2 linked regions of the Homo sapiens genome follow. The protein of the gene in region 1 interacts with the protein of each later gene in a pairwise test. Each region holds a gene or a part of one and is shown in the gene's direction. Other genes may lie near its edges.

Evidence for each region. Proteins that work in one complex are often made in the same cells at the same time.
Region 2: the proteins of RUFY3 (region 1) and CAPN3 interact in binary tests that used the Homo sapiens proteins (3 or more experiments, as listed by UniProt).

Annotation. Positions count from the first base shown.
Region 1 is NC_000004.12:70,716,960-70,724,975, forward strand, and holds the start of RUFY3 (protein RUFY3), read left to right. Parts: upstream 1-5,004; 5' UTR 5,005-5,614; coding exon 5,615-5,792; intron 5,793-8,016. UniProt on the Homo sapiens protein: ARL8 effector that promotes the coupling of endolysosomes to dynein-dynactin for retrograde transport along microtubules. Acts by binding both GTP-bound ARL8 and dynein-dynactin.
Region 2 is NC_000015.10:42,362,488-42,369,511, forward strand, and holds part of CAPN3 (calpain-3), read left to right. Parts: intron 1-7,024. UniProt on the Homo sapiens protein: Calcium-regulated non-lysosomal thiol-protease. Proteolytically cleaves CTBP1 at 'His-409'. Mediates, with UTP25, the proteasome-independent degradation of p53/TP53.

The DNA of each region.
Region 1 (8,016 bases):
ACATATTGCTTAGACCTTCATATATTTGTGACAATATTTTTGAAATAAGATAATGATTTACACGAAATTCAGAAGGTTACCTTGAAATGAGAGGCAGGAGTTTAGAAGCAAGAAGGAGCACATAAGTACATATGTTGGTCCATTTCTCCAGTTGAGCAAGGGTTTCAGGGATATTGGTTATATTCTTTAAGGACTTAAAATTATACATTAAGTTTGCTATTTTTAAAAAGCGTACAATGCATCATTTTAGAAAGTGATTCCCCCCTTCATTTATCTTTTTCTATTTTGGAATTTATCAGGTGTTCTTAATGTGTCCAACTAGTATGTAAATGTGGAGGGAACTCAGAGACAGAGTGGTAGTAGGGTGAACCAAGTACATAGTGGAAGCATTTTATCTACCCTTTGTGAGCCCATGACAGAAAAGTCCATACTGGGTTCTCAGTTTGTCAGAATGTGCCCACTTACTAAAAGCCTGAACTTAATATGTAAGTTGGGGGGCCTAGAGGAAGGTATGGGTTGTGCAGCATTAAGGTGTAAAGTATGGAGGCTGATAAAAAAAATTTCTTCAAATCTTAAATTTGTTGAAACTCATCTTTAGGAAATTTCATGAAGAGACTTTGCGTGTGTGTGTGTGTGTTTGTGTGTGTGTGTTTTAAATGTCTTTTTATTTTCTCTGAATAAAATTTAACATCCGGGGATGAGGAAGAGTTAGGATAGAGTGCTGAAGTTGCAGAGTGTAGAAGGAACATGGACTTTGGAGGTATCTAGACAGAAGTAGCTTGGAGTAACAGATCTGCTACTCGCTAATTGTGTGATTCTGGGCCAGTTACGTGGCTGAACTTTGGTTTCATTGTGTATAAAGAGAAGGTATCAATCTCTGTTTTGCAGTGCTTTTGTGAAGACTTGACATGGTATTTTTTTTTTTTTTTTTTTTTTTTTTTGAGACAGAGTCTTACACTGTTGCCCAGGCTGGAGTGCAGTGGCGCGATCTTGGCTTACTGCAACCTCCGCCTCCCGGGTTCACGCCATTCTCCTGCCTCAGCCTCCTGAGTAGCTGGGATTACAGGCACCCACCACCATGCCCAGCTAATTTTTTTGTATTTTTAGTAGAGACGGGGTTTCACCGTGTTAGCCAGGATGGTCTCAATCTCCTGACCTCGTGATCTACCTGCCTCGGCCTCCCAAAGTGCTGGGATTACAGGCGTGAGCCACCGCACCCAGCCCTTTACATGGCATTTGTAAAGCACCTAACAGAAAATAGAAATTTAATAAATGATAGCTATTTTAGGTAATTTTTCCACAATATATAACAGAGACATTGAGCCTGTCAAGTTAACCTTTGTCTTATAGTAGCAGCCGAGTACAAATATCCTTTAAGAGGAATGTAACTTCTGACTTTGAAGTGTGACTCTTATTTGCTTTGAATCCATCATAATGTGGAAAATACAGACTGTTTAAGCAGCTAGAACGTAGTATTTTTTGGATCTTCATTTTGGATTTGAACTTCACACAGGCCTATTCTTTTAGGGCCACAGACTGAACTCCCACCCGCCTCACAACCATCTTACAAATAGGTGCCATTACTCACAAATGGGATCAAATGAGAAAATAGTTCAATACAGCTCATACAGTAATTACTCTGTATGTGAGAAAAAAAATCAAGGTTTGAATATCTTACTGATGGCTTAACTTTAACTTCATATTCAAAGCTAAGATGTTTACTTAGTAAAGACCAAAATGTAAAAACGGTACTAAGCAATATCTAAAATCTTTTTTTTTTTTCTTTGAGACGGAGTTTCACAGGCTGGAGTGCAGTGGTGCAATCTCACCTCACTGCAACCCCCGCCTCCCAGGTTCAAGCGATTCTCCTGCCTCAGCCTCCAGAGTAGCAGATTACAGGCATGTGCCACCACGCCCAGCTAATTTTGTATTTTTAGTAAAGATGGCGTTTCTCCATGTTGGTCAGGCTGGTCTTGAACTCCCGACTTCAGGTGACCCGCCTGCCTCAGCCTCCCACAGTACTGGGATGACAGGCATGAGCCACCGTGCCCGGCCGTAGAATTGTTTTTATAAGTTTCTACAAATAGCACTGTTTTCATAGTAACTTCTTTGCCTGTGAACAATGGATAACTGTTCGTGCTGAAGACTCAATGGTGTTTACCTAAAGAACAGCGTAGAAGTACAGTTTTTCTTGCCCACCCCCGGGTCTTATTTCTGAAATGGCTGCCAACACCTCAAACTGGTAGATCTGGGAAATTCAAGGATACCAATACAGGCATGTTTTTCTTTCCTTGCCAAAAACTTTAGTTGTTTTGGGCTTGCCTCTCTGTGTCCTCTACCTGGAGAGAGGCAGGGTGGGATGGATCTTCCGAAGGAATGTTAATCAAGTTTCTTGCTCACTAACCTTGATGTTCCTGTTGTGTTGGTATGTTGCAATCAATCTAGATCTGTTCAAGTTAGTAAATGCTTACTGGGGTGAAGAGATTGTTGTGGTTTGTGACAAGGCCAAATTCAGGTTTTGGACCCCAGACAATCACATGGCATTCGGATTTATTCATGTATTCCTTGTTCTGTTTTAAGAACATATCAGTGATCTAGAGTTTTGATATCACACATACAGATAGCTAGGGCTGTTTGGAGTTGTGGTTCCAGGAATGTCCCATGTAATTTGAAGGTTTTAATGACTACTTACTATGTTTTGAAGTATTGCATGATATAAAGTGAATCTATAAACTGTCCCCTTATTAATATATAATATGGGAATATTTTTGGCTAGAAAGGAATTGAACTGAATTAAATGAGAATGTGTTAAATGAAGGCTTGTGTTCAGTATTTGGATATGAAAATTCTGTTTCCTGGAAAAGGTGTTTCTGTCTTACTGCTGCGTGCCTAGTGCCTGGATCACTACCTGGCATGTGGAGCACCTCTTAGTGAATATCTGTTGAATGAATGAATGAATGAATGGCTCTGAGTCTAGATGTAGGGTAATGATGAGAGAGAATGAGATAGAAATAAAACCAGGAGTATTTTGCTTTCCTTAGTAACTTACTGATTTTCCCCAATTATAAATAAGCCTATATATATGCCTTCTTACATTGTACCAGTATACCCTCCTTCTTTTTTTTATTTTGAGACAGGGTAGAGTGCAGTGGTATGATCTCGGCTCACTGCAGCCTCTGCCTCCTGGCCTCACGTGATTCTTCCACCTCAGTCTCCCAAGTAGCTAGGACCACATGTGCGCGCAACCATACCTTGCTAATTTTTGTTTTTGTAGAGATGGAGTTTTGCCATGTTGCCCAGGCTGGTTTCAAACTCCTGAGCTCAAGCCATTCACCTGCCTCAGCCTCCCAAAGTGCTGGGATTACAGGCACATGCCACCACATCTGACTAATTTTTGTATTTTTAGTAGAGATGAGGTTTCACCATGTTGGCCAGGCTGGTCTCGAACTCCTGACCTCAGGTGATTTGCCCGCCTTGGCCTCCCAAAGTGCTGGTATTATAGGCATGAGCCACCGCGCCCAGCCATCCGCCCTGTCTTCGTAACAATATGAAAATGCCAGTTTCTCTACAGAATTTGATTATTAGCATTTTTTTCTTTCAGTTCAGTCTCAAATTATGATGAAGCATTTGAGATTTTAACAATATTCAAGGAGAATTTTTTTAGTTTTCAGAAATTAGGTAAATCAAGATGTCCCTCTGATAACAATCCCTAGAAAGGAATAGTCTCAGGTCATATTTCTTGAATTTGTATGTTCCTCCTTAAAATTGGAACCCTTCAATACAAAAACAAACAAACACTTTCTTTCAATTGTCCAAAACATTTTCAAAGAAAATTCTTATTCTTCTCTTTGTAATTTATGTAGTTCATAAAGCAAGTACCTGCCCTTTTGCTACCAAGGTATAAATGCCTCATTGGATAATATAGGGCCGTGTGTGTGTGTGTGTGTGTGTGTGTGTGTGTGTGTGTGTGTGTGTATTAAGAAAATATAATTGTCTTCAGTATCTTATCGAATGGGAGGATTTTAAAAATATAACATGGTTTAATCTGCTTAGAAACATATTTCATGCTTAAGGCTGGGCATGGTGGCTCACGCCTGTAATCCCAGCACTTTGGGAGGCTGAGGTGGGAGGATCATGAGGTCAGAAGTTCAAGACCAGCCTGGCCAAGATGGTGAAACCCCGTCTCTACTAAAAATACAAAAATTAGCTGGGCGTGGTGGTGGGTGCCTGTAATCCCAGCTACTCGGGAGGCTGAGGCAGAGAATTGCTTGGACCTGGGAGCTGAGATCACGCCACTGCACTCCAGCCTGGGCTACAGAGCAAGACTCTGTCTCAAAAAAGAAAAAAGAAAAAAAAAGAAACGTATTTTATGCTTAATACAGAAACTTGATAAATACAACAAAATCAAAAAGGGGGGAAATTGCCATTAATTGGGAAAGATTTTACTTTTTTAACTTGAAGTTTTTTTTTTGCATTTCTGCCTAACCTAAAAGGTCAGGTTTTTGTACCTTGGAGAAGGAAATTATAAATGCCCAAGAATAAGATATTTAAATTGAAAATCTACTTTAGCTTTTCTTTTTATCTTTTTGTTTTTTTTCCCTCTGAGAACCTCAATTTTTTATGCTTTAGCTTTTCTTAAAACATAACATTTAGCATAGTAAAGAATTTTAATAGCTATGTAGATAAGAATGAAAGAGGTGAATTATATGCTTGTTAAATTAATCTAACTGCCTCTTTTACCATCTTTACTATAGATTATTATCCGGTATTAATTGTCATCCTTTTATTCAGTCCTTGATCCCAAAGTAAGAAGAATTGATGAGGATATGTGCATTGTGTTATGTCTGATCACAGTTTGACTAGCACAGTCTGGAAGTGGGTTGTACAGGATGAGAGAGAGAAGCCTAATTGCTCTCCCAGCATCAGCAGCATCTATAAAGCATCCTGGGAATTGCTTGCCCTACGTTCAGAGCAGCTGGTCACATGAGCCTGAATTTTCAGTTCAGTTCATTAGTCAGCCATTTTGGTCAACACCCTGCTTACTGCGCACGGCCAATCCTATGAGAACTCAGCATCCCAGCTCATCTGAGCAGATCCTGGAAGTGATTTCTGCAGCTCAGGATTTTTTTTTTAAGCTACATTGAAAATATAGGTTTATTTTTTGTTCAGGTTTTTCTTTTATATTTTTTTTCTGCACAAAGGAGGAGGATTTTTCACTTACTCATATCGAGGCCAGATTTTTAAAGCCAGCTAAGGCAGCATCAGCTGTGCGGGATTTAAAGCCTATAGCTCAGCTGAAAAAAAAGGTGGGGGGCAGGGAAGGGAAGATAAAAGGAGAGGAAGCTGGGAGAAGACAAGCATCATCTTATTTTGCTATGTGGTAGGAACTGTCTATAAGATAGTGTAGAATTGTTTATCTTGAGCAGTTTGTTCTTAACCTATAAGGTATTTTTCCTTTTTTTTTTTTTTAAACCTCCCCCACCCTTTTCCTGAAAGCTTTGTTTCAGAGCTTTGTATTGGGTTTTTTTGGTGAGGAGGTTGTATTTATTTTTTTGGTGTGTGTGTGTGAGTGTGTGTGTGTCTGTGTGTGTGTTGTGGTCCCAGCTGAGTCATCATGTCTGCTCTGACGCCTCCGACCGATATGCCAACCCCCACCACTGACAAGATCACACAGGCTGCCATGGAGACCATCTACCTTTGCAAATTCCGAGTGTCCATGGATGGAGAATGGCTCTGCCTGCGAGAGCTGGATGACATCTCACTTACACCTGACCCAGAGCCTACCCATGAAGGTATGGTCAGATCCTGTCCGCTAGTATTTCACCAGCATCCTCATTGTTATGGGGGAGGGCTGGGAGGATCAGGGAGAGGTAGAAAGAACCTACACTCTCAACTGTTAACAGTCCTGAAAACCTTGCATCCTTACTTACCACCCAGCTCCCCTTCTCTTGCTCATGGGGGAAAGATAATTTTTTTTCTTGCCCCTTTAGGTATCCTTTCAAAAGATGCTGGATACTCGTTTAGAGTTCTTTGTCTTTAAGCCTCTAAATAAAACATTTGAGGTCACTTATCACATCTGATTCTATTCAATAATGAGAAAGCTATTAATTTTGTTCATATATGAAAATGTTATAGAAATTGTAGTGATTTATAACACTAAGTTAAGACAACATGACTATAATTATAGGATTGTACATGATGAATACAGTAGAAACACCAGGGTATTTGGTAATGGTATCCTCACCATTATATGAGGATACAATTTTAAGCAAGTTATGACATCTAGGAAATGTTTGATAAAACATTTTTTTAACAATATGGATTATTAGGTTAGATGAGAAAATAACTTTTCAGCATTTATTTATTGAATATGGACTCCTAAGAAAGCATAATGCCTGGAAAGGTTAAATATGATTAATATGGCATCCCTATAGATTACAATAGAATGGTAATATTGGAATCTATTGGCCATTGCTTTTTATAAATTATTTGTGGTAACTATTATGATCCATTTGAGATTTCCACTGTCAGTACCTCTGAGATCTTTGTGGTCTCTTGACTTGCGACTTTTTTCCAGGACTCTTGCTAATTTATGAGAGGTTTTCTGCTTCTACCCTTTAATTCTCTTAATACCACAGAAAGAGAGCTGATTTGAATCATAGCTACAAATCGTTTTGTTTTTAATACAGTTGCTTCTTAGCTAAGGTTTATTCTCTGTCCTTATACTGATGAAAAAAAACAAAAAACGCTTGCATATGAGGAGAAATTCTTTATAAACATCTGCCTGATAGTTAGGCACATCGACAGGACAAAGAAGACCATAGGTGAATTGTACCTAGCAGATGGGGTTAGGAAAGGTGATTCTCTGCCTTTGACCTTGAGTTGAAATCTTATCATGACTCAGAATTTTCCCATTGTGTTTGATAAGCATTTTATCTTCCCAGTCAGCCTTAGCCTTGAGAAAGTTTTAGGGATGGTTAATAACACAGAACACAAAGCAGTCATTTTGGGTGTGTCTTTAAGAACAATGTTTAAGTGGTTTTTAAGACCCTTTGCATCTTTTAACAATTGGTTTGTTAATTAGACAGCTTTCTTTGGCTGTATGTTTCGTTATGTGCACAAGTTATAAGACATCAGCTGAAATTCCATGCAATGCCAGTACTATTTATTTTTTATTATTATTTTATTCTATATTTTCATCAAAACATCGTTACATCCAACAATTCCAGTACTACTTAAAACAGCCTCCAAAGCTTTAAAAGTCTTTAGGGAAGAAAAATACAGTTTTAGAAGGCTACCAAGAAGTCTTCTGGCAACTGCCTCAGTTTACATATTTTGTTTGAAAAAAATGTATTCCCGTCCAATTTGAGAGTTATACAATATGAAATATTCCCTTTATCATGAAATCTAGTTTACCAGTGTCTCAAAAATAATTTTTAACAATTTTAACACCTCAAATATATGTTTTTGGAGCAGGATTCCTATGGATAAGCAAAAGTGAGCTGTTTGGTTCATGTAAGCGTTTTTAGCAGCGCCATTTGAATTCTTCATAGAGAAATCTGTAGCAACACATTTCTCAGTATGGAAAATGTGTGAGAGCTATAATCTAAGTAATAAATTGTATGTCTGCTGATTAAAGAAATCAGATAAATACAGAGTTTCCAAGACCTGTAATCAACTATAGAGGATTTGGAAGAAAATAGAGAAATGCCGACAGTGCATTTTAGAATTTTGCCTTAAATTGGGCAAGAAAGCTATTATTTTAAATTACTAGAAATGAAAATAAAGAAAGCATAGTCCCATGAAAGCCTGTGAGTATTACTGCCTTGCTCCATTACCAAACTCTGGATATTTAAACAGTCATTTGGTCCCAAGAAATACCCACTTTTATGTTAATACCACTGATAGTTATTAGATTTAATTTAGCTATAAGCATTTAAGTGGTGGTCACCAGGCCCATGATTATGTGAATCTCACCTTGTTCACAAAATGGAACTCCTGATGTCTGGACGCGGG
Region 2 (7,024 bases), on another chromosome or scaffold:
CAACAACAAAGATCCTGGATTTTCCACTGTTTGAGTCACTAAAGGACCAGATAACAAAGGCCACTCTTGGATAAAATGCCCACATGTTCCCCTGGGGTTAAGATCACAGGAACACTGCCCATTGGGTTCACTAGCATAAATGAGAAATATAAAATTAGAGATGGTCAGAGTTGGAATGATTCTTGGAGAGGTGCTCCAGTGTCCTTGCTTTATAGGTGATTAAGGCCCAGAAAGGGCAAATGACTTATCTACAGCCACACAAGTTGACTTGGAACTGAAAAACTGAAATGACTCCAGAACTTTCTGACTGTAAAGCACTTCTTGGAGACATCAGTTCTCCATAAACTTCTTCAGATGTAGTGACCTTTGCCAGCCCTATGCAGTCTGAAAAGACTGTGTCCTATCAGGAGAAGCACCACACAGGTGAGTAAAGGCCTTCCTGCTTTTACTGTCTAAGGCACAGAACCTTTGGAAACCAATCTGAATTTTTTTTCGACCATCAAGTATTATTTATTATAATTACAGTGATAATGATAATAATGATAAAGGGAGAATTATTCCTGGCCAACTATAATTCTAGTTAAAATAGCATGCTGCACTTTCAGCCTTTCCCTCTTAAAAGAAAACAGGCTCTGGCCGACTGTTCCCAGCTCACCTGTAATCTCTTCTCTTACTCACCAGTGCTACCTCACAGACTTTCTTCCTCTACTCGGGAACATCATGCATTGAGTTTCCAGGGCAAACAATCTGGTTCCTCTAGACTTTCCTTATATGATCTATTTCTAGGATCAGAAAGCAAACAAATTATTCAACACTTCTCAACTGTTAAGGCAAGTTTTCTTGATGACAGATCCCAGGGCAGAATAGAATGGGTTCTAGAACAGGGCTTCTGGGATGCTGGTGCCCAATATACTAGGGATAGGTTGGGGATGGGAGGGCAGGTCGTGTTTCATTCCATGGGGTGGAAGGTTCAATTGCACCACACTCCTGGCCTGTCTCCTTCCCATGGTGGGTTTGTAAAGAGAACTTGACCTGTAAAGCCCAGTTCTTGGCTTCTGTCTTTCTCTGGGAAGCAAGCTGCCTGCAAGAAGCATGGCTTCTGCTCTCTGCCCTCCTTGCAGTAAGTTTTCTGGAGGCAAGTCCCCATGGGGAGTCATGCAGGAGTCCCTGGGCCACCTGGTAATGTGTGGTTAACAGTAAAGATAATCGCTAATCTTGAGTGAGAACTCACCACATGCCAGTAACTAAATGCTTTCCATATGTTAATTCATTTAATCTTCACAACAATCCTGTGAGGAAGTACCATTATTGTCCCACTTTACAAAGGAGGGAACTGAGTCTCAGAGGGATTAAATAACTCGCGCCAGATCTCCCAGTTAGTGAGGGTTGGAGCTGGGATTTAAACCCACACAATCTGGCTCTAGAGCCCCAAATCTATCTAATTCTGAGATTTAGATGTCAATATCCATTTTTATTAAACAATAAATGTGGGATTTTGGACTCCCACCTGCCCTGCACTTTTGTAGTATTCCTTTATTGGCTCAAAACTCATGCATGGAAGTAAGGTGTCATTTATTGGGCCTCCTCAAGACACAACAGGCATTGAGTGACACCCCAGGGGTTGCCCCTGAAAGCATCAGCCTCTATAAGTTGGAGATGGAATGGCACAGTGGCTAAGAGCCCAGGCTCTGAGGTCAGATAACCTAAGTTCAAGTCTGGGCCTGCTACCTAACACTTAGGTAATCTTGGTCACATACTTACCCTCATTTTGCCACAGGTTCTCCATGTGAAAAATGGAGAAAAACCATAATTGAAGAACCCATCTCTTAATTAATTGAGGATTAAATGAGTTAATGCAGGCTAAAGGCTTAAGACCAGCACATGGTTGAGTGCTCAGTAAACATAGACTACTCTTATTACTGCCTACAAGCAGCTATGCAGTCTCTTAAAAGTGGCAACATCATAAACATTTTTCCAGCTTAATTTGTGCCTATGACCAGTCAAGATATTAGCTACAGCAATGTGTTTGAGTACTTCATGCCTGGTCTAAATGCATCCATCCATCTCAGCATGAGGATGTGTGTGTGAATGCTCCCCTCATGGGCAGGGGACTGCTTGTCCTTTAGGGCAATTCTAGTTATCTACATCAAATATAAAATGTACATTTGGTTGTGAAAATCTGAGTGTATCATAGAGCCAGGAAGGAGACTACAAAAGAGGGATCACACTTGGCTGGGAAACTTGGCACCTTGCCCAGTGATTGGCTTTAAAGGCTCACTGAGACCAACTTGCTGAGCAAGGGCTTCGTTTTTCCCATCTGCATGTGCCTCAGTCATGCCAGGTGGAGAGTTCTTAAGCTTCTTCTCTCTCATCTCCTGCAATTCCCAAAGCAGGGGCAACCTAGATCCCTGCTTCTTTTGGAGGGATGAGAAGTGAAGGGCCAGTTGCAGGACCTTGTGATGAAAAGGTATCTGGTCCTCTCCTCACCCTTGGTAACATGGGATCCCAGAATTGCTCCACAGGGCCCTGCCCTGCACCATCAGCTCAGCTGGCCAGGGCTTCCAGCAGTGGACCCTGACAACAATGAGGTTCCTGGGCTCCTCCTGTCTCTGGTGCTAGGTGGAGTCACCTTTCTGTAAATTCCATGTTATTCCAGACCCACCCTAACCTAGAGCTTGGAGAAGGAAGGGCCCACCGTATTTAGCAGCTGGATTAACCCAGACTTCAGGTTAAACTTCCCTCCATCAGCATGGTCTCAGTGTTTCTTGGCTCTGCTAGGAGAGGTTATTTCTGGTTGGGCCTCCAGTTCACAGCCCTGAATCGGAGTCAAAACTGCATCATTGATATACAGCCACCTCCAGCTTAACCTCCAGCTCCTTCCCTAGGAAATCCGTTCTCCCTTCCTCCACTGTCCTCCAAGCTCCTTGGGCTGATAGCTGGGCCTTGCAGTTTCTCATCGCAACCTTCTGCTTAGCTCTCTCCTCTATTTGCTGTTGGGAGTTGGGGGAGCTTGCCACCTTCCCACTTAACTCCAGATCCAGTGCCTTCTCACTTGCTGATGGTGGCTGGAGCTCCAGCTATGGGTCTTTTCCCCTCACCTTTTCCCCTCACCTCTTTCCCTCAACTCCTGTCCCCACCTCTCTGTCATTACAGGGCCCCACCCGTTCCCAGCTCAGAGCTGGGTCTCTACTTCAGCCACATTTCTCTGGTGTTTGCCTTTCTTCCTGCCAGGTATTACTATCATACCCATATCCATCTGTGCTTTGCCCAGTAGTCCAACCTCACCCTTAGCCCTGCTCTTCTTCACTCCTGGGGCCAGCTAGTGCCCTCCACCAACACCTGGACCTGTGGACACCTCTTTCCCAGACAGACGGCAGCAGCCTCTTAGTCCTCTGAATAGATGACTTTATTCCTTGTATTCTGGTACACAGAAATCTCTTGAATTAGGCTTATTTTAAGAATAGAGTTTAGATAAGTTTCCCAAGCTATAATTCATCATGAACCTTATTTTCCCAAGTCTAGAAGATTCTCAATACTAGTACTTTCTTGATCTTATCAGAGGGTGTCCATGGAAGGTCATGACCATCACCCAGCTGAGTGCAGTAGAAGGAAGCTTTCTAATGTAAGTTGCATCACAGTTTCAGAGATGTGAGAGAAATTCAGAAATGTGAGGGAAATTGTGAAATGTAAAACGTGAGGGAGAAAAGCATTCAGAATGGAAAAATAAGACAAAGAGTCCCTTCCCATCTAACTCACAACCCTGCCATCCCCAACCTATTCCTTTTCCCAGGCTCTTTCTTTCTTCCGTGCTGTCTATCGACATGGACCCAGCCACACCGGCTGGTTTTTGCTGCTTTCTGTATGACCTGGTCTCTTGCCCCTTCCCAAGGTCCTCATCATCCAGGCAGAACCAACTTCTTCCTTGTGCCAGGGCTGTTACACCAGGAGAAAAAAAAGTATGACATTCTTCAGGGTAGATCTTCTTACTACTGTGGAATTATTGTCAAGTCTTTAAATTTATTTCGCCAAATGTGCTCACTTTCTGAACCCTTAACATGGCAGAAACATCTTCTCTCTTCTCGAGGAAAACCTGTAAGAAAAAATCAGAAAGATTATTATAATTACAGAATTACAATAATCTCTGGGGTGGGGGAAGGAGAATTAAGTATGATTGTTTTCGAGGAAGAAAAGAAAGAAAAACACCTGCCCGTTTACTTACAAGAGGGAGGAGAGCTAGAACTGAAAGGAAAATGGAGTGGAGGAAGCAACAGGGCTTGTGACGACCCCTAACCTGGTGTTCTTCCTCTCCACGACCCGACCCTCACAGAATTCTTTTTTTTCTTTTTTTTTTTCTTTTTTTTTTTGAGACAGGGTCTCGCTCTGTTGCCCAGGCTGGAGTGCAGTGTCTCCAGCTCAGCTCACTGCAACCTCCACCTCCCAGGTTCAACCAATCCTCCCACCTTGGCCTCTCTAGTTGCTGGGACTACAGGCATGCGCCACCATGCCTGGCTAATTTTTGTATTTTTAGTAGAGATGGGGTTTCACCATATTGACTAGGCTGGTCTCAAACTCCTGACCCCAGTGATCCACCGCCTCAGCCTCCCAAAGTGCTGGGATTATAGGCATGAGGCTCTGCACCCGGCCTCCCTCACAGAATTCTTTCCGAGTGCTTGTGAAACTTCTGAGGCAAGTGACTTGGTAGAGGGTGGAGGTTCCTATTTTGGTTTACACAAGCAGGGGTGAGCCAACACTCAGAGTGTGGAAAGCACAGGAGTGTGGGGAGAGAGAAGCACACAGAAAGGAGCTGCTAGGAACCGGCTGAACTGTGGTGGGAGTGAGGAGGCTCTGCCCTCTCAGAGGCTATGGAGTGGTGTTCAAGACAATTCACAAGGAAGCCTGGTGCCTCAGCTAACACTGGGTGGCATTCTGCTGAAGAGGAGCTGACACGTACTTTTCCATTTTCATTCAATCTTCAAGTTTAAACAATCACCATCAGAACTTTCAGAAGTGTATTATATACTCCAGAACACCAGAAATATAGTATAAAAGCTGCTATTTTTAAAATACCCCAGAGATATAGGACCAAAAATGGGAACTACTTTCAGCCTTTCCAGATGGATGGCTTTCTTTCCTGATATAAAGGTTTTAAAGAGAAAAGGATGGCTCCATCTCCTTGAGTAACCTACAGCTTGTAACTTTCACAGTCTGAACACTCATCCTTATTTCTAACTAGAATGTTTCCAGGTGCAAATGTAATATATTTTCTCTGGCTGTGACCCAAAAGACAGTGAAATAGAGTCAGCTGATTTTCCCTGTATGGTAACCCTCCCTATTTTTTTCTCTCTTTTTTTTAAACAGAGATAGGAGTCTCACTATGTTGTCCACACTGGACTTGAACTCCTGGGTTTAAGTGATCCTCCTGCCTCAGACTCTGAGTAGCTGGGACTACAGGCATATCCTGTTTTTGAATCATGTCATCCCTCTTTTAGTTAATTCAGATCAGTCACAAAAGTGTTCCAACTTTATGCCATAGGCATGGCTTTTCCAACATGGAGGACGTCAGTGCTATAAACCTTACACAGCCAATCCTTGTTATTTGCAGATGCCATATTTGCAAATTCACCTACTCGCTAAGGTTTGTCTCCTCAAAATTAGTACTTGAGGTGTTTTTGCAGTCATTTGTGGGCATACACAGAGCTGTGAAAAATCTGAGTCACCCCACATGCCTGTTCCCAGCTCAGGTCAAACAAGGCAACACTCAGCCTTCTTGTTTCAGCTTTGATACTGTAAAGAATGTCCTTTTCATGACGTCTTTAGTGCCATGTTTTTCTCATTTCTGTGCTTTTTATTGGTGACCTCCAAGCATAGTGCTGAAATGCTGTCTAGCATTCTAGGAGGCTGTGGTGTGCCTCATGGAGGAAATACGTGTGTCAGATAAGCTTTGTTCACACACAAGTTATAGTCAGTTGGCTGTGAGTTCAATGTTATTGAATCATCAATCAATAAACAATAATTTAATGAATCAATATTAAATAAGGTGTCTTTAAGCAGAAACATCATAAAATAAGGCTCTGTATTGATTGGTTGATGAAAATGTGACCAGAGACTCATAGGACTCTAACTCTGTAGTTCCCCTAGGAGCAATGGTTCAGTATTTACTAATACAGTGTTCTCAGCGTTATTATAAAACATAACTACCAAGAATAATGAGTATTGACTATACTTCATTTTCTCTGTATTCTTAAATATTACAGCTTGAAACAATGCTCTATTAAGAATGTGGGCTGGGCGTGGTGGCTCACACCTGCAGTCCCAGCATTTTGGGAGGCCAAGGCGGGTGGATCACTTGAGCCCAGGAGTTCAAGACCAGCTTGGGCACCATGGTGAAACCCTATCTCTACCAAAAATACAAAGATTAGCCAGGTATGGTGGTTTGTGCCTATAGTCCTAGCTGTAAGAGTTAAAAAGAAAGAGGAAAGAAACATGAAAAATGGCTCAATAAAGACAGGTTTATTTTGGAGAATAAACCTGAGAGGGGCTTCTGGCTGATTTCTGTCAGGAGTACTCTCTCTTACAGACTAAGTGTATTTAAGGGTTCAGGGTGAGAGAGCCTATCACAGGCTTGGAATGTTTCTGTGTGGAGGAGAAGTTCATTGTGGGTTTGGAATGTCTCTGGTTGGAGGGGAGGTTATCTTGGGGCTGGCTTGTCTCTGGTCAGGGAGAGAGTTTATCTTACGGTTGGAATGTTTCTGGTTGGAGATGTCATTTGTGGTTTATGGTCATACTGACATTAGCCATTAGGCTGATGCCCTTTGGGTTGGATTTAGGCAGTTTTTGATCAAGGGGCACTTTAAAATGGTGGTGCTTGTCCAAGATGGTGATGCTCCTGCTCTGTCACTAGCTACTTGGGAGGCTGAGGTGGGAGGATCACTTGAGCTACGGAGGTTGGGGCTGCAGTGAGCCAAAATTGCGCCACTGCATTCCAGCCTGAGTGACACAGTAAGACCATCTCAAAAAGAAGAAA